Regions from separate parts of the Homo sapiens genome. Here region 1 is linked to region 2. Evidence: fine-mapped expression QTL. A gene starts in region 2. The other region holds a variant in brackets. All regions are shown on one strand. Distances are between the middles of the regions. Region 1 overlaps AKAP10 (A-kinase anchoring protein 10). Region 2 holds the start of AKAP10 (A-kinase anchoring protein 10).

Region 1 (11,659 bases), 31 kb before region 2:
ATAAATCTAAAAAACCTCTGGAGCCATTTCAACAAATCTATGTGGATTTAGTTATATAGCATCCATTTAGCTTAAAGCCTAACTAACAAATTAGGAGAGCCATCTGAAGACATGCATTATTTAAATAAATAAACCAATTCTAATAGTCATAATCACTACAGACTCAATCACTCCCCAAATTATTTCAGAACTAAAAACAAATTATTTTAACTTAGGAAATATTAACATTGAAAATGAAAATGAAAATTTTAAGAGTTCACATAATTTATATTTAAAAGAAACTGTTAACCAAGATAGAGTATGCTTTATATGATCTTGTAAATATCCAAAATATTTAAATTCTCAAAAATACTTTGTTTTTAGCTGAGTGAAGCCCATTCCTAACAATGAACCCAAATTCCCTAGGATGCACAATGTGAAAATATGAACTAACTTACTCTTGCTCCATTGCACTAAAGACTATGGACTGTGCCAAAACGAAACAGTTGGGATCCACCTGTCCATCTTCTCCACAAATCCTTGCTGCAAAAGAAGTTGTAAATAATTAAATTGCCACTAAATTCAAACTATGTATACACACTTGTGAATCAACTTGGGAGTTAACAGCACAGGCATATAAATTAAGAGGTTTTAAATAGAACTAAAAGAAAATACAGGTAACACTTGATCTTAAAATAGAAAGTCTTTTGAAGTACATATGCAAAAGCAGAAATCAAAAGATTTAACAACATAAAATTTAATTCCTATACATAGAAACCCTCCAAAAACAAAATACAAAGGCAAACAAACAGAAAAAAGATTTGCAGCATGCATGACAGTTAAAAGGTTACTATCATTAAAATACCAAGAGCTCTTATAAACTACTAAGAAATGTTCCAAAAGAAAAATGAGCAAAGGACATGACAATCCACAAAGGAACAAACATAAAATGACCAACGTGAAAAGACATACATACTCACTAGTAATCAAATAGATTAGAATAAGGAGGCACTACACCTTTTATCTAGTAAACTGGCCCAACATTGTTTTTAATAATATGTATACTTGAGCAAGGGCACAAGAAAACTAACACTAGTGTTAGTGGGGATACAAACACCTTTTTCTGAAGGCAATTTGGCAGTTTCTAGCATAACTTTAAAAATGAACATACCCTTTCAATGAGCAATTCTATTTCTGGGATTGTAACTTAAAAAATTATGGATTTGTGAAGTTATCTGTAAAAAAGTTTATTAAAATGTTATTGGTAGAAATTTTAAAACATGAAATGTGCTAAAATAAGGAACTGCTAAAATAAACTGCAGCGAAACAATTAGCTATTTAGCTAGCTGTTAAACATGGCTGGAAAAACCATATAACATGATGCCTAGTCTCACTTTGTGTTCATGACTTTAGTGGGACCTTCATGAAACCAAGGGATCATACTAGTGTCCTGGTCTGTTTACATTCACTTTCCTAGACAATACAAATCTGTGATACTGTGAAATATGTTATTTAGTCTTTGCCCAGTTTTTTTTTTTTCCTTTTTCTTCTGAGACAAGGTCTCACTTTGTCACCCAAGCCGGAGTCAGTGGCACGATCATGGCTCACTGCTGCCTTCAACTCCAGGGCTCAGTGATCCTCAGCCTTCTGAGTAGCTGAGACTACAGACAAGAGCTATTACGCCTGGCCAATTTTTAAATTTTTTGTAAGGGGGTCTCACTATGTTGACCAGGCTGGTTTTGATCTCATGGCCTGAAACGATCCTCCTGCCTCAGCCTCCCAAAGTGCTGGGATTACAGGCCTGAGACATTGCAACTGGCCTTTAGCCAGTTTCTTAGCATACAGCGCCTAAAATTCATGGAATCTCTGGATTCTTTTGAAGGCTAATGAGATGACTTGTGGCTGTGGCCTCTAAAGAGCTTTAGGATGAGGGCTAATCACCAGAAAGACCAAGGCAGAATTACACGTTTGGGACTTTCAGCCCTACCCACCAACCTCCCGGGATGAGGGGGCTGAAGGTTGAGCTGATCACCAATAGCCAATGATCAATCATGCCTATATAATGAAGTCTCCACAAAAAACCCAAAAGGACAGAATGGGGAGGGGGGCTTCTGAATAGCTAAATCTGTAGAGGTTCTTGGAGGGTGGCATGACCTGGAGAGTGCATGGAAGCTCTGTGCCCCTCTCCCATACCTTGCCCATGCATCTCTTCCATCTGCCTGTTCAATCTGTATCCTTTGTAATATCCTTTATAATAAATGGGTAAATATATGTAAAGCATTTCCCTGAGTTCTGAGAGCTGCTCTAGCAAATTTATTGAACCCAAGGAGGGGACTGTGGGAACTCCAATTTATAGAAGGTCAGTCAGAAGCACAGGCCACAACTTGTACTTGAGACTGGCATCTGAAGTGGAGGCAGTCTTGTGGGACAGAGTCCTCAATCTGTGGGATCTGATGCTATCTCCAGGTAAACAGTGTGAGAACTGAACTGACTTAGAGGACACCCAGTTGGTGTTCACTGAACAATCATCTGCAGAATTGGTAGCTGACAGGGAAAAAACCCCACACAACTAGAGTCATGGAAGGGTTCTGTTTTGTGAGAGTTCAGAAGGAGAAACTGAGTTTTTTTTTTTTCTACAGTACATCTCCTTTCTCAAATATTTAACACCTCTTCTATTCTCTTTGCTGAGGACTTTGCTTCCTGCTTCCTTGAGAATATAGAAGCAATCAGAAAATTATTTCCATCATCTCTCACATCTTTCAACTCACCTGCATCTCTACCCGTGTACTGCATTCTTTCCTGTGACTCTAGATAAATTGTCCTTGCTCCCATCTAAGCAATCTTCTATGTGAGCACTGGAATTCATCCCTTCTGCCTCCAGACTTCTTTCCTGTAACAACTGTCCCCTCTCCTACATCAACTTCTCCTTCACTACTGCCTCATTCCTATCAGCTGTGTGGACTGCATGTTTATATATATACCTGTTTGTATGCTATAACACACTTTATATGCTTATATATATGCCTGTAACCTCAGCACTTTGGGAGGCCAAGGTGAGTAGATCATGAGGTCAGGAGATGGAGACCATCCTGGCCAACACGGTGAAACCCCGTTTCTACTAAAATACAAAAAAAAAAATTAGCCAGGCGTGGTGGCGAGCGCCTGTAGTCCCAGCTACTTGGGAGGCTGAGGCAGGGGAATCGCTTGAACCCAGGAGGCGGAGGTTGCCGTGAGCCAAGATCACGCCACTGCACTCCAGCCTGGCGAGAGTGAGACTCCGTCTCAAAAACAAACAAACAAACAAACAAAAAATGCAGTCATGCTTTATTCCTTTTTTTCCCTCTCATACCACTCACTTCCAAACCATCAGCAAATTCTGTCAGCTGTACCTTCAAAGTTTTTAAAAATTCTACCACTTCAAACATTTGTGGAAGATGAAGGAGGTAGTGCAAGTATAGATTCTGGATCACTCTAAATCCTCACATAAAAACAGTAATTAGTTAGCAACACCAAAAATCCAAGGATTACATTTAAAACAAGACTATGCAAAGTGGGTACACAGTAAGAGCTAAAGTGAAGGCTCCTTTGAACAAAACTCACTTGAAGGACAGCTATATTAAAATAGTCCAACTGCAAGAGGAGACAAATAATTTGGACAGGATTAAGAATGGGGCTCAAGGAGGAAAAATGACTTGCCTAAAGCCACACAGGTAATTAACATCCTAAAATATATAATGATAGACACTGGGATAGAGGTTTTCTCAAATTCTTTGATCACAAAATGTTATCAACTTGATCCTTCAGAAGACTTTTCCTTCATGGGATTACATCATCATTAATTTGATTAAGCTTAAGTAAAAGAAAGAGAGTTGCAGTGTGGTTTCATTTTAAGTGTTTTATTTGACTTGAAACTGCTTCCTTTTTATCCACACGCCAGTCAGGCTATTAACTGGTACAGACTCCCCTCAAAAAAAAATCACTAGCCAACCAATTCTTCAAACAGGCAAACTCTAATCAGTCAGAACATCCCTGTTGTATTACTAGGAAAAGCTGGTCTAGGGATGATGATAGTAGCAAATTCCCACATAAAAATAGAGCAACAACACAGAAAACCTCAAATCTCATGACAACATCTGTCAGCAAAACTCAGTGAAACAGTACCCCTTAAATACAAGCAGATAGGGATAAGCCACCAACAGCCACCAGGCCTATGTTATAGCCGTTATAGGTATCTGTGTGGGAGAAAGAAAAGGAAAATGGAGCCAACATGACATGGACCCCAGAATAGCTAACTGGAAGGTACAGTGGGCCAATTTAAGAAACACAGCTGAGACTAACAGGGGTCTTGCTGTCCCCAGCAGTGAGTGAGTGCAAAGCACCCACACTAAGGATTAAAGAAGCCCAACATCGGGACAGATCTGCTAAAAGTGCAAGAACATGTCTTATTTCATAAATCACAAATACTAACTTTTTTGAAGAATAAAAATACATAATATTAGGACTTATGAGAATGTAATATTTATTGAATGAATAAATAACCTCTTTTATCTGTGAATATACGTTCACCTAAGGTCTTCCTGATAAAACACAGTAAAAGCTTTCAAACTATTTTGCTATAACCTATAAGAAATATATTTGTTGAATCAGCATACACATACATACATGTATATATAATGAAAACATTTTTCTGAAATGTTTGTCCTTACTACTCTGAGATACTTTGATTTTTTTATTCTAGTATATATATATATACACACACTAATATGTATATTATATATTAGTATATATACTAATATATAATATATACTATATATGCATATATACTAATACATATATTTTATATATATATATATTTTATATATATATATATTATATATATATATATATATATATATATATATATATATATTTTTTTTTTTTTTTTTTTTTTTTGGCAGGGGGTGAGGGCATAAGAGAAGGCTGGTCCCAACCTACAGTATGAAAAACACTGCCACAGCACAGCAGTTAAGGTATGTGAGGGTCTAGTTTCAAATCCTGACTCTGCCATATCTGAGCTGTTACCCTGGACAAAGCACTTAACTTCTCTGTGCTTCAGTTTCTTCATCTATAAAATAACTGTATTTATCCCACAAAGTTCTTTAGAAGTTAAAATGAGTCTATCCATAAAAAGTGCTTGGAATATTGTCTGGGACACAGTGAGTGTTTAATAAATGTGTACTATTTATTGATCTTGCTGTCATTGTTATTCAGGTTAAAGCCTAAGAATTTGGGTCCAACATATAAGAAAAACTTTTTTTTTTTTTTTTTTTTTAAGGTTAGCAAATTGTCTTTATTCAGAAGAATAAAGTTACGTGAAACTGGGACTGGACATGAGGCTGCCCTCCTCCTTGCACCTCCAGCTGTGCCAAATGACACAGAAATGACACTGTGTGTGGCACAATCAACTGGCAAAAAAAGGCAAGTCACAGGCCATGTGATGGCTCTGGCTAATGCAGGTAGACATCCAGGGTGCCCAGGGACGTCAGGCCCACTGAGAAGTGGGATGAAGCCCTGAGACGGAGAGGCCACCACTGAGACACCTGTCTGGCCATCCAGTTGCCCACTGGTCGTGAGACTCTTGGGCTGCAGCCCTGATGCCTAGAGACTTTGGTACCGGCTTTTAGCCTCACTGGACTTCCAACCCCAGAAGTTTCTGTCCCGCCCACTTCGTGCACTGGTGCGGGGCTGCCGGCCAGTCCATCCGGTGGTCTGTGCCGGTTAGCGTAGCCGCCCGCCGGCCCGGCTGCTCAGCAGCGGGCAGGCCTGAGCACCCGCTACACTGCAGCCCATCTGGCCCAGGCAAAGACCCTCGCACCGAATGCAGCCGAGAAACTTTTAAAGTGAGCTATAATCCGATATAAAAAATACTCAGAAAACAAATTAGGAAGGGAACTGCTAAATTCCATGTTAAGAAAAAATTATCTTAGTCAATAACGAAAATTGTCAGTTCTGTGCATTTTTTGTCATTTTTTTTTTGCCATAGTTTCAAGCACTGCTTACCTATGATGTCATTTCTCATTGCTTCTGTAATTGGTATTGGTTTAGCAGCATCTGGAGATATATATTTGGTAAAAGTATTCACTGCATCTTGTTCTATACCTGCAAGGGAAGAAGAGAACTTCAAAAACCAAAAAGCAACTTGGACTCCAGTAATGAATTATATTCATGAATAGCAGGGCTTAGATCACTGTGAGTTCCTATTGCAAAATAAACTTCCATCACAAAGGTGCTTTTTCATTGTTTGGTTTGTGGAAG[A/G]GGAGAGTTACATGGGGGTGTTCAAAGCTATGGAAAATGCATATGATGAAAAAACTATGCATGAATTTCAAAGTACTTTTACACCAAAATAAACTCATATTAACCTGTTATAACGTATCTGAACAGGATCTACTCTGAGGCACTAAGAAGGAGAAAACATCAGTTTGAAGACAGCCCCTATTGGAGCAACATGAATTCTGCTAAAATGGAAGAATAAACATCAAATTTATGGTGAAGCTTGTGTGGATGAAAGATAAAATTATTGATGCTTTACCAAAAGTTTATGGGGACAATGCCTCAAAGGACAGAGTGAGACTCCGTCTCAAAAAAAAAAAAAAAGTCAAGTATTAATAATTATGACAGAAACCACCAAAGGCGGGTGTTAAAGTGTTATTTTCCTAATGTGCTTGCTAAAGGGAAAACAGCAAATTAATATAGAGAATATCATCCGTTGATTTGATATGAAATCCTAATAAGTATGTCAAGATGAAATAAGCACACTCTTCTGTCTCTCCCATGGAATGCAACTCAAAACAATGGACAAATGCATCCAAGGACTTGGAAGCAGGTGGACTGAGAAAAGTAATCAGAACTTGCAGTACCTCCGTACTCCTGACAAGTTTGTCCAGCACCTCCTGGCCTGGACTCAAAAGCTGAAACTGCACACCAGATGCACAAAGAAGAAGTTCCAAGACAGGCCCTCTATTTCTGGTCTGAGGAACAGGAAAGGGGGCTCTCACGGATCAAAGAGAGTGGAGGAAATCCCCTGGGTTGTTTTGTTTTGTTCCTTTCTCTCCTTCGACTCCCAGGCAGCATCAGAGCAGCCACAGCAGCAATGACAGCAGCTCCAAGAATCCTACTTTCTGACAAGAGAAACTGCAGTCCCAAGAAGAAGAAGTCGTGGCCACAGAGGTTGACATAGCTACAGGAAGTGTGCTGAAGTATAGGGAATCTAAAGCCCTGACTTTCTAGCCAGACAACAGGAAAGGGATAAAGGGAGGTTCTTAGAAGGCAGAACGTGTCAGGGACATCACAGAAAAGAAGGAGCCCATGAAAACGTCGAGTTGTATGTGCACTCCCGGGGCCACTCGTGAGCTGGGTGTGCATGGCCCTGCTTCTAAAAGTGTACAAAGGCTTTGGGACCTGACCATTGGCCAGGTCCCAGACTGGACACAGAAAGGCACATAAGCAGATAAGATACAAAACTGAACTGATGATGGAACCAGAGCCGACAGAATGCTGCTTAGAATTTGTGGACTGAACCTAACTAGGTCAACTGCTTGTTAAAGCAAAAACTTCAATATTTTCCACAGGATTTAAACAAGATTCAGAATCATGTAACGTAAGTCAAACTGTCCAAGATACAATCCAAAATTAATTGTCATATAAAGAACCAGAAAATCCCATTATCTCACAAGAGAAAAGACAATCAAGAGGACACATATGCTGGGATGATAAAACAAATTTTAAGTAGCTACTAAAACCATGCTCTAAGAAATAAGATCACTCCTGAAACAAATAAGAGTTTCAGGAGCAAAGTATAAGACATACACAAAAAAAGAAAATTTTAGAACTAAAAAACATAATAAACAAAATTTAAAATTCACTACAAAGACTCAATAACAGAATGGAAATAACGGGAAAGAACCAGTGAATTTGAAGACAGATGAATAGAAATTTTCGAAGCTGAACAACAGGAAAAAAAAATTTAAAGAAGTAAGGAAAGCCTCAGGAACCTGCCAAACAATAACAAAACTAACATTTGGGTTACTAAAATCCTAGAAGGAAAAGAGAAAAAGTGCAATGTCAAAAAAATATTTAAAGACTTAGCCGGGCGCGGTGGCTCACGCCTGTAATCCCAGCACTTTGGGAGGCTGAGGAGAGCGAATCACAAGGTCAAGAAATCGAGACCATCCTGGCCAACACAGTGAAACCGTCTCTACTAAAAATACAAAAATTAGCTGGGCATGGTGGCGCGCACCTGTAATCCCAGCTACTCAGTAGGCTGAGGCAGGAGAAACACTTGAACCCAGGAGGCGGAGGTTGCAGTGAGCCAAGATCACGCCACTGCACTCCAGCCTGGTAACAGAAAGAGAGACTCTGTCTCAAAAAAAAAAGAGAAAAAAAAAAAAAAACGGTGTTATTAAATCTTTATTACATTTCTTTTCTCTCTCTTTTTTAACCTCATCCCTAGTTCTATTTTTATGGTGGTTAAGTTTTCTACATTCCACTTGAAGTTACAAAATATTAAATGTGAGTACACTGTGAAAAGTATGTATATTGTAATTCCTAGAGAAGCCACTAAAAAGCCTACATAAAAAGATACAATCAAGAACTCAATATATAAATTCTAGAAAAAGGCAGGGCATGGTGGCTCACGCCTGTAATCCCAGCACTTTGGGAGGCCGAGGCAGGTGGATCACTTGAGGTCAAGAGTTCAAGACCAGCCTGGCCAATATGGTGAAACCCTGTCTCTACTAAAAATACAAAAAAATTAGCTGGGTGTAGTGGCACATGCCTGCAGTCCCAGCTACTTGGGAGCTGTGGCAGGAGAATCACTCAAAAAAATAAATAAATAAGTAAGATAAATAAATTTAAGGAAAAATTCAAATAATCCAAAAGAAAGCAAAAAAGGGGCTCTCCCTCGTCTCCCTCTCCCTCTCCCCGGTCTCCCTCTGATGCCACCAAAGTTGTGAAAGCCGAGGCTGGACTGTACTGCCGCCATCTCGGCTCACTGCAACCTCCCTGCCTGATTCTCCTGCCTCAGCCTGCAGAGTGCCTGGGATTGCAGGCGCACGCCGCCACACCTGACTGGTTTTTGCATTTTTTGGTGGAGACGGGGTTTCGCTGTGTTGGCCGGGCTGGTCTCCAGCTCCTGACCGCGAGTGATCTGCCTGCCTCGGCCTCCCGAGGTGCCAGGATTGCAGACGGAGTCTCGCTCACTCAATGCTCAATGTTGCCCAGGCTGGAGTGCAGTGGCGTGATCTCAGCTCCCTACAACCTCCACTTCCCAGCCGCCTGCCTTGGCCTCCCAAAGTGCCGAGATTGCAGCCTCTGCCCGGCCGCCACCCCGTCCGGGAAGTGAGGAGCGTCTCTGCCTAGCCGCCCATCGTCTGGGATGTGAGGAGCCCCTCTGACCGGCCGCCCCGTCTGGGAAGTGAGGAGCACCTCTTCCCGGCTGCCATCCCGTCTAGGAAGTGAGGAGTGTCTCTGCCCGGCAGCCCATCGTCTGAGATGTGGGGACCACCTCTGCCCCGCCGCCCCGTCTGGGATGGGAGGAGCGCCTCTGCCCGGCCGCGACCCCGTCTGGGAACTGAGGAGTGTCTCTGCCCGACCGCCACCCCATCTGGGAGGTGAGGAGCGTCTCTGCCCGGCCGCCCCGTCTGAGAAGTGAGGAGCCCCTCCGCCCGGCAGCCGCCCGGTCTGCGAAGTGAGGAGCCCCTCAGCCCGGCAGCCGCCCCGTCCGGGAGGGAGGTGGGGGGCAGCCCCCGCCCGGCCAGCCGCCCCATCTGGGAGGGAGGTGGGGGGTCAGCCCCCGCCCGGCCAGCCGCCCCGTCCGGGAGGGAGGTGGGGGGTCAGCCCCCGCCCGGCCAGCCGCCCCATCCGGGAGGGAGGTGGGGGGCGCCTCCGCCCGGCCACTGCCCCGTCTGGGAGGTGGGGGGCGCCTCTGCCCGGCTGCCCCATCTGGGAAGTGAGGAGCCCCTCTGCCCAGCTGCCACCCCGTCTGGGAGGTGTACCCAACAGCTCATTGAGAACGGGCCATGATGACGATGGCAGTTTTGTCGAATAGAAAAGGGGGAAATGTGGGGAAAAGAAAGAGAGATCAGATTGTTACTGTGTCTGTGTAGAAAGAAGTAGACATGGGAGACTCCATTTTGTTCTGTACTAAGAAAAATTCTTCTGCCTTGGGATGCTGTTAATCTATAACCTTACCCCCAACCCCCTGCTCTCTGAAACATGTGCTATTACCACTCAGGGTTAAATGGATTAAGGGTGGTGCAAGATGTGCTTTGTTAAACAGATGCTTGAAGGCAGCATGCTCGTTAAGAGTCATCACCACTCCCTAATCTCAAGTACCCAGGGACACAAACACTGCAGAAGGCCGCAGGGTCCTCTGTCTAGGAAAACCAGAGACCTTGTTCACATGTTTATCTGCTGACCTTCCCTCAACTATTGTCCTATGACCCTGCCAAATCCCCCTCTCCAAGAAACACCCAAGAATGATCAACAAATACTAAAAAAAAATAAGAATTAAAAAAAAAAAAAAAGCAAAAAAGGGGAAATCAAAGAGGGAGAAACAGAAAAACATATACTAAACTGGTAATCTAAATCCAAAGATATTAATATTATTATGAGTAATATAATTATATTAATACCAATAATTATATTTACACATTATAAATACCCCAGTGCAACAGTTACATTTAATGTAAATAATTATACTAAAATTTATATTAAAATAATTAAATTTACCAACAAAAACCCTGTATTGTGAGAAAAGATTAAAAATAACATGACTCAGCCGGGTGCAGTGGCTCACGCCTGTAATCCCAGCACTTTGGGAGGCCAAAGCAGGTGGATCACCTGAGGTCAGGAGTTCAAGACGAGCCTGGCTAACATGGTGAAAATCCGTTTCTACTAAAAATACAAAAAATCAGCCAGGCATGGTGCGCGTGCCTGTAATCCCAGCTACTTGGGAGGCTGAGGCAGGAGAATCACTGCAACCCAGGAGGTGGAGGTTGTGGTAAGCCAGGATTGCACCACTGCACTCCAGCTTGGGCAACAAGAGCAAAACTCTGTCTCAATAAATAAATAAATAAATAAATAAATAAATAAATAAATAACACTACCCAACTATATGCTGCCTACAAGAAGCCCCCTTTAAATAGAATTATAAAGGTAGATCAAAAGTAAAAAAATGGAAAAAGATATGCCATGCAAGCACTAATCAAATGAAAGCTGCAGTGTCTATATAAATTGGACAACAGATATTTCTGATCTTAGAACAAGGAAAATTACCATAAAGAGGGAATTACATAATGATAAAACAGGCAATTCACCCAGAAGATATCATCCTGAATGTGTACACACCTAACAACAGAGCCTCAAAATACATGAAGCAAAACCAGATAGAGCTGAAAGTAAAATTGGAAAAAAAAATTGTAGTTGGAAAGTTCAACACTCTTCTGAGTAATAAAGTGATATAACTGCATACAAAGTATCAGCAAGAATAAAGAAAAACTGAACACCATCATTAACCAACTAAATCAACTTGACATTTATAGAAAACTGTCCAAAAACAGAATGTACAATCTTTATACTGTATGTGGTATATTCACATTTTAAAAAATTTTTTAATGTTATTTTTAAAAATTAATAAATGAAA
Region 2 (11,659 bases):
ATTTTTAATTTTGCCAACTTACTAGTTTTGAAATGGCATTTGATGTTTTTAATTCATTTCCTTGTTTCCTTTGAGGTTAAACATCCTTTCATGTTTATTGGTCATTTTGGCTTCCTCTTTTGTGAACTGCCTCTTCATGTCCCTTGTCTTTTACTTATTACTTGCAGAAATTCCATACACGTCCTGGATGTAAATCTTCTCTTCTAGAAGTATCTTAGGTATACTTTATTGTATGAAAGTTTTAGGTTTTTTGCTTTGTTTTGTTTTGTTTTTTTGAGACGGAATCTCACTCTGTCGCCCAGGCTGGAGTGCAGTGGCGCGATCTCAGCTCACTGCAAGCTTCGCCTCCCGGGTTCAGGCCATTCTCCTGCCTCAGCCTCCCAAGTAGCTGGGACTACAGGCGCCCGCCACCACGCCCGGCTAATGTTTTGTATTTTTAGTAGAGACGGGGTTTCACCGTGTTAGCCAGGATGGTCTCAATCTCCTGACCTGGTGATCTGCTCACCTCGGCCTCCCAAAGTACTGGTATTACAGGCGTGAGCCACCGCGCTTGGCGAAAGTTTTAAGTTTTAACGTAGTCAAATTTACACAACATGGATTATATTTTCCTGTGTCTTATTTTAAGCAATATCCCTTCCTATCCTGAGATCAGGATTGTTCCCCCTACCTGTTCTTCTACATGACTTCAAGTTTTGTTTTTTTAACATTCCAGGCTCTTATTTACCTGGAATTTGTTTCTGCATCAGGGATTGGCAAACTACAGCCCATGGGCCAAATACAACCCACTACCTTTTGTTTTGTTTTGCTTTAAGACTCCGTCACCCTGGCTGGAGTGCAGTGGTGCTATCTCAGCTCACTGCAACCTCTGCCTCCTGGGTTCAAGTGATTCTTGTGTCTTAGCCTCCAGAGTAGCTGGAATTATAGACACCCACCACCATGCCCAGCTATTTTTTGTATTTTTAGTAGAGACAGGGTTTCACCATGTTGGCCAGGCTGGTCTCAAACTCCTGACCCCAAGTGATCCATCTGCCTTAGCCTCCCAAAGTGCTGGCCATGCCTAAACTGGCCCACTACCAGTTTTTGTAAGTAAAGTTTTATCGTAGCACAGCCATGCCCATTTGTTTACATATTGTCTATGGCTTCAAGGATAAAGGAGAGTGTGACAGAAACCATATGGTCTGGAAAGCCTAAAATATTTATGATTTGGCCCTTAACAGAAAAAGTCTGTTGATCTGAGATATATGAGAGGAGGCAGGAAATTATTTTTTGCCAGATGATGGATAACTAGCATCATTTACAGATCAGTCTATCTTTTCCCAACTAGGAACTCTATATCCGAAATTCCCAATATACCTGGGTCTGTTTCTGTGCATTTGTTTTGAATATATACCATAAGTATCAAGAATGGAATGGAAACCAAATGGAAGCCTATGGCAAAATAATGCTGCCTCCTCAATCTTTATAAAACCAGCTCCCTCTTGACATTTAAGCTAAGATTTGAATGTCATCTCCTTAGAGGACATCCTTAACCACTCAATCTTAACAGAGATGACTGCCTAGACCAGGGTGTTAATTGTCACAGATGGTGAGACGTGGTAGGATTTCGATATGTGTGAGGTAGACCTAACAGATTTGCTGATGGATCAGATATAGAGTAGGAGGAAAGAAGAGGTTCAAAGATGTACTAAAGTTTTGGGCTGAGCAACTAAAAATCCAAAAATGCAGCCGGGAGCGGTGGCTCATGCCTGTAATCCCAGCCTTTGGGAGGCCGAGGCAGGCAGATCACCTGAGGTCAGGAGTACAAAACCAGCCTGACCAACATGGTGAAACCCTGTCTCCAAAAATTAGCTGGTCATGGTGGCGCATGCCTGTAATTCCAGCTACTTGCGAGGCTGAGGCAGGAGAATCACTTGAACCCAGGAGGCGGAGGTTGCAGTGAGCCAAGATCCGCCACTGCACTCCAGCTTGAACGATAAGAGCGAAACTCCATCTCAAAAAAAAGAAAAGAAAAAAAGCCAAAATACTACTTCTTGAGAAAAACTGATGAGCAGGTTTAAAATGACTAAATCTGGCATAAAATTTTAGATATTGTAAGTTGAAGGTATCTACTGGATTAAGCTTGTCCATCCCGCGGCCCAGGATGGCTCTGAATGTGCCCAACACAAATTCGTAAACTTTCTTAAAACATTATAAGTTTTGCGATTTTTTTTTAGCTCATCTGCTATTGTTAGCGTTAGTGTACTCTATGTGTGGCTCAAGACAATTCTTCTTCCAATGTGGCCTAGGGAAGCCAAAAGACTGGACACCTCTATATTGGTCAGGTAGAGATACAAACTGAACCTAAAGTTGGATATACCAGTCTGGATTCAGGGGCAAGGATCCAACGTAGTGATGTAAATTTGGGACTCAATGCATTGATGGTATTTAAAGTCTGAATCGAATCCCTAACAGGACCATCTCCAGCTTCTACTCTTACCACATCCAGCCTCCAAAAAGCACCTAGAATGATTTTTTTTTTTTTTTGAGACAAGATCTCACTGTGTTGCAGTGGTGGGATCATAGCTTACTGCAGCCTCAAACTCCTGGGCTCAAGTGATCTTTCTGCTTCAGCCTCCTGAATAACTCACAACACCCAGCTATTTATTTTTTCTTTTTGTAGAGATGGAGTCTCTCTATGCTGTACAGGTTGATCTCGAACTGGCCTCAGGTGATCCTCCTGTCTCAGCCTCCCAAAGCCCTTGATTACAGGCATGAGCCACCATGCCCTAGAATGATCTTTTTAAGATATAAGTTCAGATCACTCCTCTTTCAAAATTTTAAATTAATATTCTTTCTGTATTTTGTTTGACACATGGTCTCACTTTGTCATCCAGGCTGGAGTGTAGTGACTCAAATATGGCTCATTGTAGCCTCCACCTCCTAGGCTCAAGTGATCCTTCTGCCTCAGCCTCCTGAGTAGCTGGGACCACAGGTGTGCACCATCATACCCAGCAATTTTTTAAATGTTTTGTACAGGTCTCATGTTGCTCAGGCTGGTCTTGAACTCCTGGGTTCAAGCTATATTCCTGCCTCGGCCTCCTAAAATACTGGGATTACAGATATGAACCACCATGTTTGGCATCTCGGCATTAGGAATAAAACCTAACCATGGCCCGTAGAGCTCTCAATCACCCAACACTTGCCTACATCTATGCTCCAGTCACAGTAGCCTTCTTTCCTCTCTTGAAGGGCACCATGCTCTTTCTTGCCTCCTGGCCTTTGAACATGCGATTCCCTGGCCTCTCTAGTTACCTCCTACTGATCCTTCAGCTCTAAGTTTCAAGGTCACCTGCTGAGTCCTCTAACATCTAACCAAAATGCATTTCTCCTCTTAATCTTTCATAACACTTTACTCAACTTGTAAGTATACACCTATACACACACACTTACATGGAGCGAAAGGGAGAAGAGAGAAGATTTGTTTGCTTATTTATTATCTGTCTACCCCAGTAGACAATAAGCTCCATGGGTGCAGGGACATTCTCTGGTTCACTACTCAATCGTGAGGGCCTAGCACAGCACCTGGCAGACTCTGGACACTCAAAAGGTATTTGTTGAATAGAGACAACAGTCTCTTGTGCAATATGCAGTTTGCCTCATTATTCTTAGAATGTTTTCCCCCCTTAAAAAAACAAAAGTTAACCACTTCAATACCAATAAATTAGAGAGCTATTAGGTATACCCCTGCCTTACCAATAAAGCTTCCTCCTACTATTTTACCGGTTTCATTCATTAAGCACTTTCATGCATTCATCACCTGGCATCAGTTACCAAAACCGTGTACCCACTTAAGAAGAAGTATTTAAAGTCATTCAGAGTTCAATGGGCCTTTGGGAATCATCTAATTCTCAGCTGACAGAAGACAGAAAAGTAGGTTAACTGGTCTGCCCCTGTTACAGTTAGCAGCAGAGCTGTCATATGAAACCAAGTTCGATTTTGTTTAGTGCTTTTTCCAAAACCCATTTCTGGCTGGCCGCGGTGGCTCATGCCTGTAATCCTGGCACTTTGGGAGGCCGAGGTGGGAGGCCCACTTGAGGTCAGGGGTTCAAGACCAGCCTAACATGGTGAAGCCCCGTTTCTACTAAAAATACAAAAATTAGCCGGGCATGGTGGGGCATGGGTAATCCCAGCTACTTGGGAGGCTGAGGCAGGAGAATCGATTAAACCTGGGAGACAGAGGTTGCAGTGAGCCGAGACTGAGATCGCGCCATTGCACTCGAGCCTGGGCAACAAGAGCGAAACTCCGTCTCAAAACAAAAAAAGAAAACAAAACCCATTTCTGTCTGGTACTTTTTTTTTGAGACGGAGTTTCGCTCTTTTTGCCCAGGCTGGAGTGCAATGGTGCTATCTCGGCTCACCGCAACCTCCGCCTCCCAGGTTCAAGCGATTCTCCTGCTTCAGCCTCCCAAGTAGCTGGCATTACAGGCATGCGCCACCACCCTGGCTAATTTTGTATTTTTAGTAGACACGGGGTTTCTCCATGTTGGTCAGGCTGGTCTTGAACTCCCGATCTCAGGTGATCCACCCGCCAAGCCTCCCAAAGTGCTGGGATTACAGGCGTGAGCCACCGCGCCCGGCCTCTGTCTGGTACATTTTATCTGAAGCAACAGGAATTGACAGGAAAAATCACTGCTGTCCACAGACCCATACTTGCTCACTTCGGATATGTATTTTTAATGAAGTGCAACAACGTTACCCAGAATCAAAATTAAGCTGTTTCTACGTAAACATTGGGCAGGTAATACAACTGGAAATCAAAAATGTAAGTAGTTCGTTTGTAAGTTAGGGTTCCAGTAGTTAGCAAACTTGCCAAAGTCATCAAAAGTAGTGGTCTTCCTGTTGGGGAACTTTAGCAATAAGTAATTTTATTTTAGTAACAGCAGTAACTACCCCTCCCCCCAAAGAGGAAATTGGAAGACAGCACTGGGTGAAGAAAACAATTTTTTCACGTGTTGCTTTTAGACATAAAACCCTCAACATTTGGAAACTTCAGACTTCCATAATAAGGTTCTAAAGAGATTTCCTTGATCTTGATCCACGGTCCTCAAAGAAACACAAAAAAACTAACCCCCACCTAAGAACTGTTCTTAACCAAACAGGCAGGAACTTCTATGGGCTTTAGCAATCGCTTCTGAACCAGCGCGACAATACTCCTCTGACCTCGCGCAAGAAGGCCACCTTCTCCCTCCCAGAAGAGTCCCGGAGCAGAGCAAGGCACTCAGGGGGCATCTGCGCCGAGGTCGAGGCTCGCTGAAGGCCTTGCTGCCGCCTTGGGGAAAGCCCTCGCAGGCCCACCTGCCCCACCGCCGCCCCTGAGGCCCGGCCTGACTCCCCGCCGGCGCCCCCTCAGCTACCTTTCCGCCGGAAGAAGGACATGGCGGGGCCCGGGTCGGGACGGAGGGTGCGGGGGGACTGGCGCGGGGAGGGCCCGGCTCCCCTCATTCAGCAACCGGCCCGGACTTCCGGGTCCAGAGGGGCCGCTGCACTAGCGCGAAAAGGGACCCTTCTTCCGGGAGTGGGCCCCACCGCCTCCTCGGGATGCCCAGGCAGCTCCAGCCGCCATATTATCAACAAGCCGCCCGCCCGGAGTTCCGGTCCTTCCCCGCGCTAGGCTTCACGGGAGGTCAAGCGCCGGCCCCGCCCCTTTTCCCCATCCCCCTCCCGCGGGTGCAGGGGCGCACGCCCGCATCGCCCACGTGACCCGCGCGTGCTACCCGCGCCTCTTTCCCGGGCCCTGGGTGCCTGGAGCGAGCCACCGTTCCTGCAGCTGTTTTGTGGCGTCTGTCGCCGGCCCCCGGTGGAGCGCTGCAGACCCAGTCTCTGCAAAACTAACTCCCTGGGGCGGGAGCCCTCCCAGCAGCTGGAACGGGGCGGGCCTTAGGTCCCCGGCTTCCGGCCCCTGGGTACCCTTCAAATTGTGCCCTTCTAAAAGGCAGGGTCAACCCTGCCACGCTCCAGCTCGACCCCTCCTGCTCCTCCGTTTGAGTTTTGCTCACAGGCGCTGGCCGGCACGAGCAGCTTCACCCTGCACCCCAGTCCCTGCTTCCTCAGGAGAACCCGCCACGGCCTGCGGGTTCGAGGCGATGCAGAACCCTGATTAGGAAAAGGCACAACCTGCCGCATGCGGAACCAGCAGCTCCCTGGATCATTAGCGAATGAAAAGGGGAAGCGGGCTTATTTCGGAGTGCAGTCCCTGCGAATGCTCAACTTTGTAAGGGACTGCAACATAAAAGCCTCGCCAGTATTTAAAAGCTAGCTCCAGTGAATCATCCTTGCTCAAATGCCATTTTCCTGTGAATCTTCTGACCCTCTACTCCCAAAGCAAAATCAATCAAGCCTCCCTGTCTTTGGTGCTTCTTAACACCCGGCGAGTGCGCTCAGCGGCTGAGGTTGTAACTGCTCCCTGGGGTTGGGGTTGGGGAGGGCAGGAAGGTAATAGTAACTCAATAAATGTTCGCTGGGGTTTTTAAACCAATGAAGTTTATCATGTGACGGATGGGGAAACAGGCCCAGAAGAGACAACTAGCCCAAGATTGTTCAGAATGTTAGAAATACCAAAATTGTTAGAAATAGATAATCGGTGCCACGAAGAAAAGTCAGCACGGAGACAAAAGATCTCCAGCAAGGCAATCTTTACTTTCTGCAGAAAGGGTGCTCAATCGCAGATGGAACGATGTCGAGAGCACACCTGAACAAAGGAAAAGCAAACATATTTATCCCTTACGCATTTGGGTCGTCCTCACTGCTATGTCCTGCATCCATTGGCTGGAGCGGGACCTCACACTCTTAAACTGATAGCCGATTTGCTAATAGCCTAAAACTTTCTAAATAGGTAAGTGCAAGGAAGAACGAAGAAGGAGAGGAAGTTGCTTACCGAAAGGTTTAAGGAAGCAATAACATTTCCAAATAAGGAAGGGGCATAGGCTGTGAACTGGAACGTGCCTGTGAGCATGTCCAACAGTTACATAGGATAGGGCTTAACAAAGAGTTATTAGCACAAAGCAAGGAGGCTTGAAGAAAGTTAGTCTTTAAAATAAACTATTACTTCTAACACTTATGATGTATTCTTTAACAAGAAGGGGAACTTTGAAGAGGAAACTTTTTACTTTCTACAAGAATGTCCAAGTTTAAGACTATAACTAGAACCCGAAATAGGCAAATCCCTTAACCTGCTCTAATAATAATATGGTCTTTTCACTATATTGTTAGAGCAGGTTAAAAGATTTACTTATTTCATTTCTGGCCAGATGCAGTGGCTTATGCCTGTAATCCCAACACTTTGAGAGGCTGAGGCAGTCAGATCACCTGAGGTCAGGAGTTAGACCAGCCTGGCCAAGATGGCGAAACCCCGTCTCTACTAAAAATACAAAAATTAACTGGGCGTCGTGGCATGCCTGTAGTCCCAGCTAATCAGGAGGCTGAGGCAGGAGAATCTCGAACACGGGAGGTGGAGGTTGCAGTGAGCCAAGATCGCGCCACTGCACTCCAGCCTGGGCGAGAGGAAGACTCCTTAAAAAAAAAAAAAAAAAAGATGTGCCTATTTCGTTTCAGAGCATGGCATGTTTGCAAGTGCATGAAAGGTAACCAAAACTGACATGGAAATTTACTATGCGACGGTACTGTGCTAAACCCTCCAGATGAGTAATAGTCCTTGGAGTCAGTCCTGGTATCTGGAAAACTAGGCACTGAAAAATAAAGTCAACTGCTCAAGGTCACACGCTAACTAGGGATGAAGCCTGGATTTCAAGGTGAAGCCTTTCTCCAGTTAAGGACAGCGCGTCCAGGCGCACTGGACGGAAGCAGCGCTGGCAGAGGCTCCGGACGTCCGGAGTGAGCTGGCGCCGAATGGACGCGGTCTGGCCGCTTCCTCCTGGCCTCGGCCGGGCCTGCACCGGGAGGCTGAGCGGCGCCCCACCAGGGATCCGAGATGCCCTCGGGAGCCAATCTGTGTTCTTGGCGGACCACACCCCGCTGTCTGTAGCCAATAAAACCTTGGATCGTGCATCCCACCCCCACCAAAGGGAGATTGGCTGAAGCCAAGGACCCGGGCGCGGTCTACGTGGGATTTCTCTGCAGGCTGAGGGGACAAGTGGCTGTGTCTACCAGGGGCCCAAGTACAGGGCATCAGCAAGAAAGCGCAGCGCCCTTCTCCTGTTCCCTTCCAGCGTGCAGAACCTCGCAGGGGCTATTTTGTATGTGTTGTGTGGTTAGTTGGATGGGGCGGGAGGGACGTAGGGGAGGGGAGAGTGCGAGAAATCCCCTGAATGTCTCTGGCACGGGAGCAGATCCCACAGAGTTGGAGGCGGAGGACTCTAAGTTCCTCTAAATCTCCTCTAAGCCTTCCTCATTCTCTCCAGCTAAGCAGTCTGTGCAGAAGCAGTGCCTCACCTCGACTTCCAGTGTGATTTGCTGCCTTTGAGCCCTGCCCACCAGAAATTCTGAAGTCGCCGTAATCCCCGACAGCTGCATACACCTCAGTCATGATAATGGCCGTCATTATTTATGAAGTACTTATTATGCGCCCTCCTTGTATTAAGTGCTTTACAATTACTAGCTCACTTAATCCATAATTCCTGCCCTTCCCCGAAAAGAGACCCTGTGAGATGGCTGCCATCGCAACCCCCAATTTACAGATGTGGCCCTGAGGATCGGGGTAACTTATGTAGGATCATGAGGCTGTTAAGAGGTAGAGACAGGATTTCAATCGCTGTCAATCAGACTCCAAAGCCATTTGCTTATACCACTTTCTCCTATCTTTCTCTCCACCCACACATTTATCCAGGGTCCCAAAATGGGATGTCTGTCGGGCAGGTATATGGGGGTGAATGATATCTGGCAGTACATATTCTTCGGGTACCTTCTGAATCATCACCCATTAAAATGTTTATATGCTTAGGGAAGCTTGCTGCTAAGAGTATTGTCATTTAATCTTTTGAAATTTGATGATCCACATATGAGTAAAGTTAAAAGAAGAATTTAAAAATAACAAGAATATTACATTAGGCTGAATACGCAGCTGTGGCAAACTAATACCCTGCATTGTATTTCTGAATTAACTTCATAAAGTCATTTTAGTTTACATGTAAGATAAAATTAATTTTTATCAGGAGTTCCTTTAATTATGCTCCTAATTTTTGGGAACCGTCACAGTGTTGTTTTGTTTTATGTGTTTTTTTTCTTTTTTTTTTTTAGACGGAGTTTCGCTCTTGTTGCCCAGGCTGGAGTGCAATGGCGCGATATCGGCTCACTGCAACCTCCACCTCCCGGGTTCAAGTGATTCTCCTGCCACAGCCTCCCGAAGAGCTGGGATTACAGGCATGCACCACCACGACCGGCTAATTTTGTATTTTTAGTAAAGATGGGGTTTCACCATGTTGGTCAGGCTGGTCTTGAACTCCTGACCTCAGGTGATCCGCCTGCCTCAGCCTCCCAAAGTGCTGGGATTATAGGCGGGAGCCACCATGCCCGGCCTCGTCACAGTCTTTTTATACCAGTTGTATTAATTACAACAAATCAGTGAGGTAAAATCAGTAAGTTAATTATCACAAATCCAGTGAATGGTTTAATCTAACATTGTTTAAAAATCAATGAATAGTATTCTACAACAAACATTCTAACAAATATAGTTTATCAAACATTCATAACTTTTTTTTTCGAGACAGATTCTCATCTCACTCTGTCGCCCAGGCCAGACTGCAGTGGTGGGATCTCAGCTCACTGCAACCTCCACCTCCTGGATTCAAGCAATTCTCCTGCCTCAGCCTCCTGACTACAAATGTGTGCCACCATGCCTGGTAATTTTTGTATTTTTAGTAGAGACGGGGTTTCACCATATTGGCCAGGCTGGTCTTGAACTCCTGAGCTTAGGTGATCCACCTGCCTCAGCCTCTCAAAGTGTTGGGATTACAGGCATGAGTCACTGCACCCGGCCCTGGTTTTAGTTTTAATCAAATCAATTGTACCGAAAGGGGAGAAGAGAGAATTTAGCAAGGAAATATTTGAAAAGCTAACGGCTGACAATTTTCCTGTGGTGATAACAGAAACCAACACACTAATTCAAGAATCACTATGAACTGCAAACAAAAGAAATACAAAGAAATCTGCACACAGATTATTAATAACAAAACTTCAGGAAATAAAAATGAAGAAAAATTGTTAAAAATTGCTAGGGGTAGGGGAAGCAGATTACCTTCAAAGGAGTGCTACTTGGCCGGGTGCGGTGGCTCATGCCTGTAATCTTTGGGAGGCTGGGGCAGGCAGATCACTTGAGGCCAGGAGTTCGAGACCAGCCTGTCTAACATGGTGAAACCCCATCTCTACTGAAAATACAAAAATTAGCCGGGCGTGATGGTACGCACCTGTAATCCCAGCTATTTGGCAGGCTGAGGCAGGAGGTGGAGGTTGCACTGAGCTGAGATCACGCCACTGTACACCAGCCTAGATGACAGAGTAAGACTCCGTCTAAAAAAAAAAAAAAAAGAGGCTGGGCGCGGTGGCTCACGCCTATAATCCCAGCACTTTGGGAGGCCGAGGCGGACAGATCACGAGGTCAGGAGATCGAGACCATCCTGGCTAACACGGTGAAACCCCAACTCTACGAAAAATACAAAAAAATCAGCCGGGCGTGGTGGCGGGCGCCTTTAGTCCCAGCTACTCCGGAGGCTGAGGCAGGAGAATGGCGTGAACCCGGGAGGCAGAGCTTGCAGTGAGCCAAGATCACGCCACTGCACTCCAGCCTGGGCGACAGGGCAAGACTCTGTCTCAAAAAAAAAAAAAAAAAAAAGAGTGCCAAGTAAACAGCTGATTTTTTAAACAGTTACAGTGGATGCCAGAAGATTCATATTAAATATTCAATATGCTATAAAAAGTAACTGCTGGCTAGTCATGGCCCAGCACTTTGTAAGGCCAAGGTGGGTGGATTGCTAGAGCTCAGGAGTTAGAGACCAGCCTGGGAAATGTGGCAAAGCCTCATCTCTACAAAAAATAGAAAAATTAGTTGGGTATGGTGGCATGCATCTGTAGTCCCAGCTACTAGGGAGGCTGAGGTGGGAAGATCACCTGAGCCCTAGGAGGTCAAGTCTGCAGTGAACCGAGATCACATTACTACACCCCAGCATAGGCAACAGAGTGAGACCCTGTCTCAAAATAATAATAATAATGATAATAACTATCAACCAACAATTTTATATCCATCAAAAATATATTTCAAAGATGACACAAAATAAGATTTCAGACAAAAACGGAAAAAATTGGCTGTGCGTGGTGGCTCATGCTTGTAATCCCAGCACTTTGGGAGGCCAAGGTGGGTGGATCACCTGAGGTCAGGAGTTCGAGACCAGCCTGGCCAACACGGTGAACCCCCATTTCTACTAAAAATACAAAAATTAGCCGCGTGTGGTGGTGGGTGCCTGTAATCTCTCAGCTACTTGGGAGGCTGAGGCAGGAGAATTGCTGGAATCCGGGAGGTGGAGGTTGCAGTGAGCTGAGATCGTGCTATTGCACTCCAGCCCAAGCTGACAACAGCGAGACTCAGTCTCAAAAAAAAGAAAAAAATTGTCACCAGCAGACCTCACTAAAGAATATTCTATTTTGGCCAGGTGTGGTGGCTCATGCCTGTAAT

What was found. PIP is the estimated chance that this variant, and not a neighbour inherited with it, causes the effect.
Region 1: its variant is the best candidate, but not a certain one, in a credible set for the expression of AKAP10 in whole blood (INTERVAL, PIP 0.64).

Annotation. Positions count from the first base shown.
Region 1 is chr17:19,941,389-19,953,047 of GRCh38, forward strand. AKAP10 (A-kinase anchoring protein 10) reads right to left here. Exons shown (of 15, transcript NM_007202.4): 5 at 6,019-6,117; 6 at 438-522. Among named protein-coding and RNA genes, the nearest start is that of AKAP10, 31 kb to the right of the region's middle. The variant A/G (reference allele first, on the strand shown) is at 6,274.
Region 2 is chr17:19,972,199-19,983,857 of GRCh38, forward strand. It overlaps AKAP10 (A-kinase anchoring protein 10), which reads right to left and starts at 5,630. Exons shown (of 15, transcript NM_007202.4): 1 at 5,394-5,630. The coding sequence starts at 5,481. RefSeq lists a silencer at 5,338-5,527 and an enhancer at 6,000-6,713.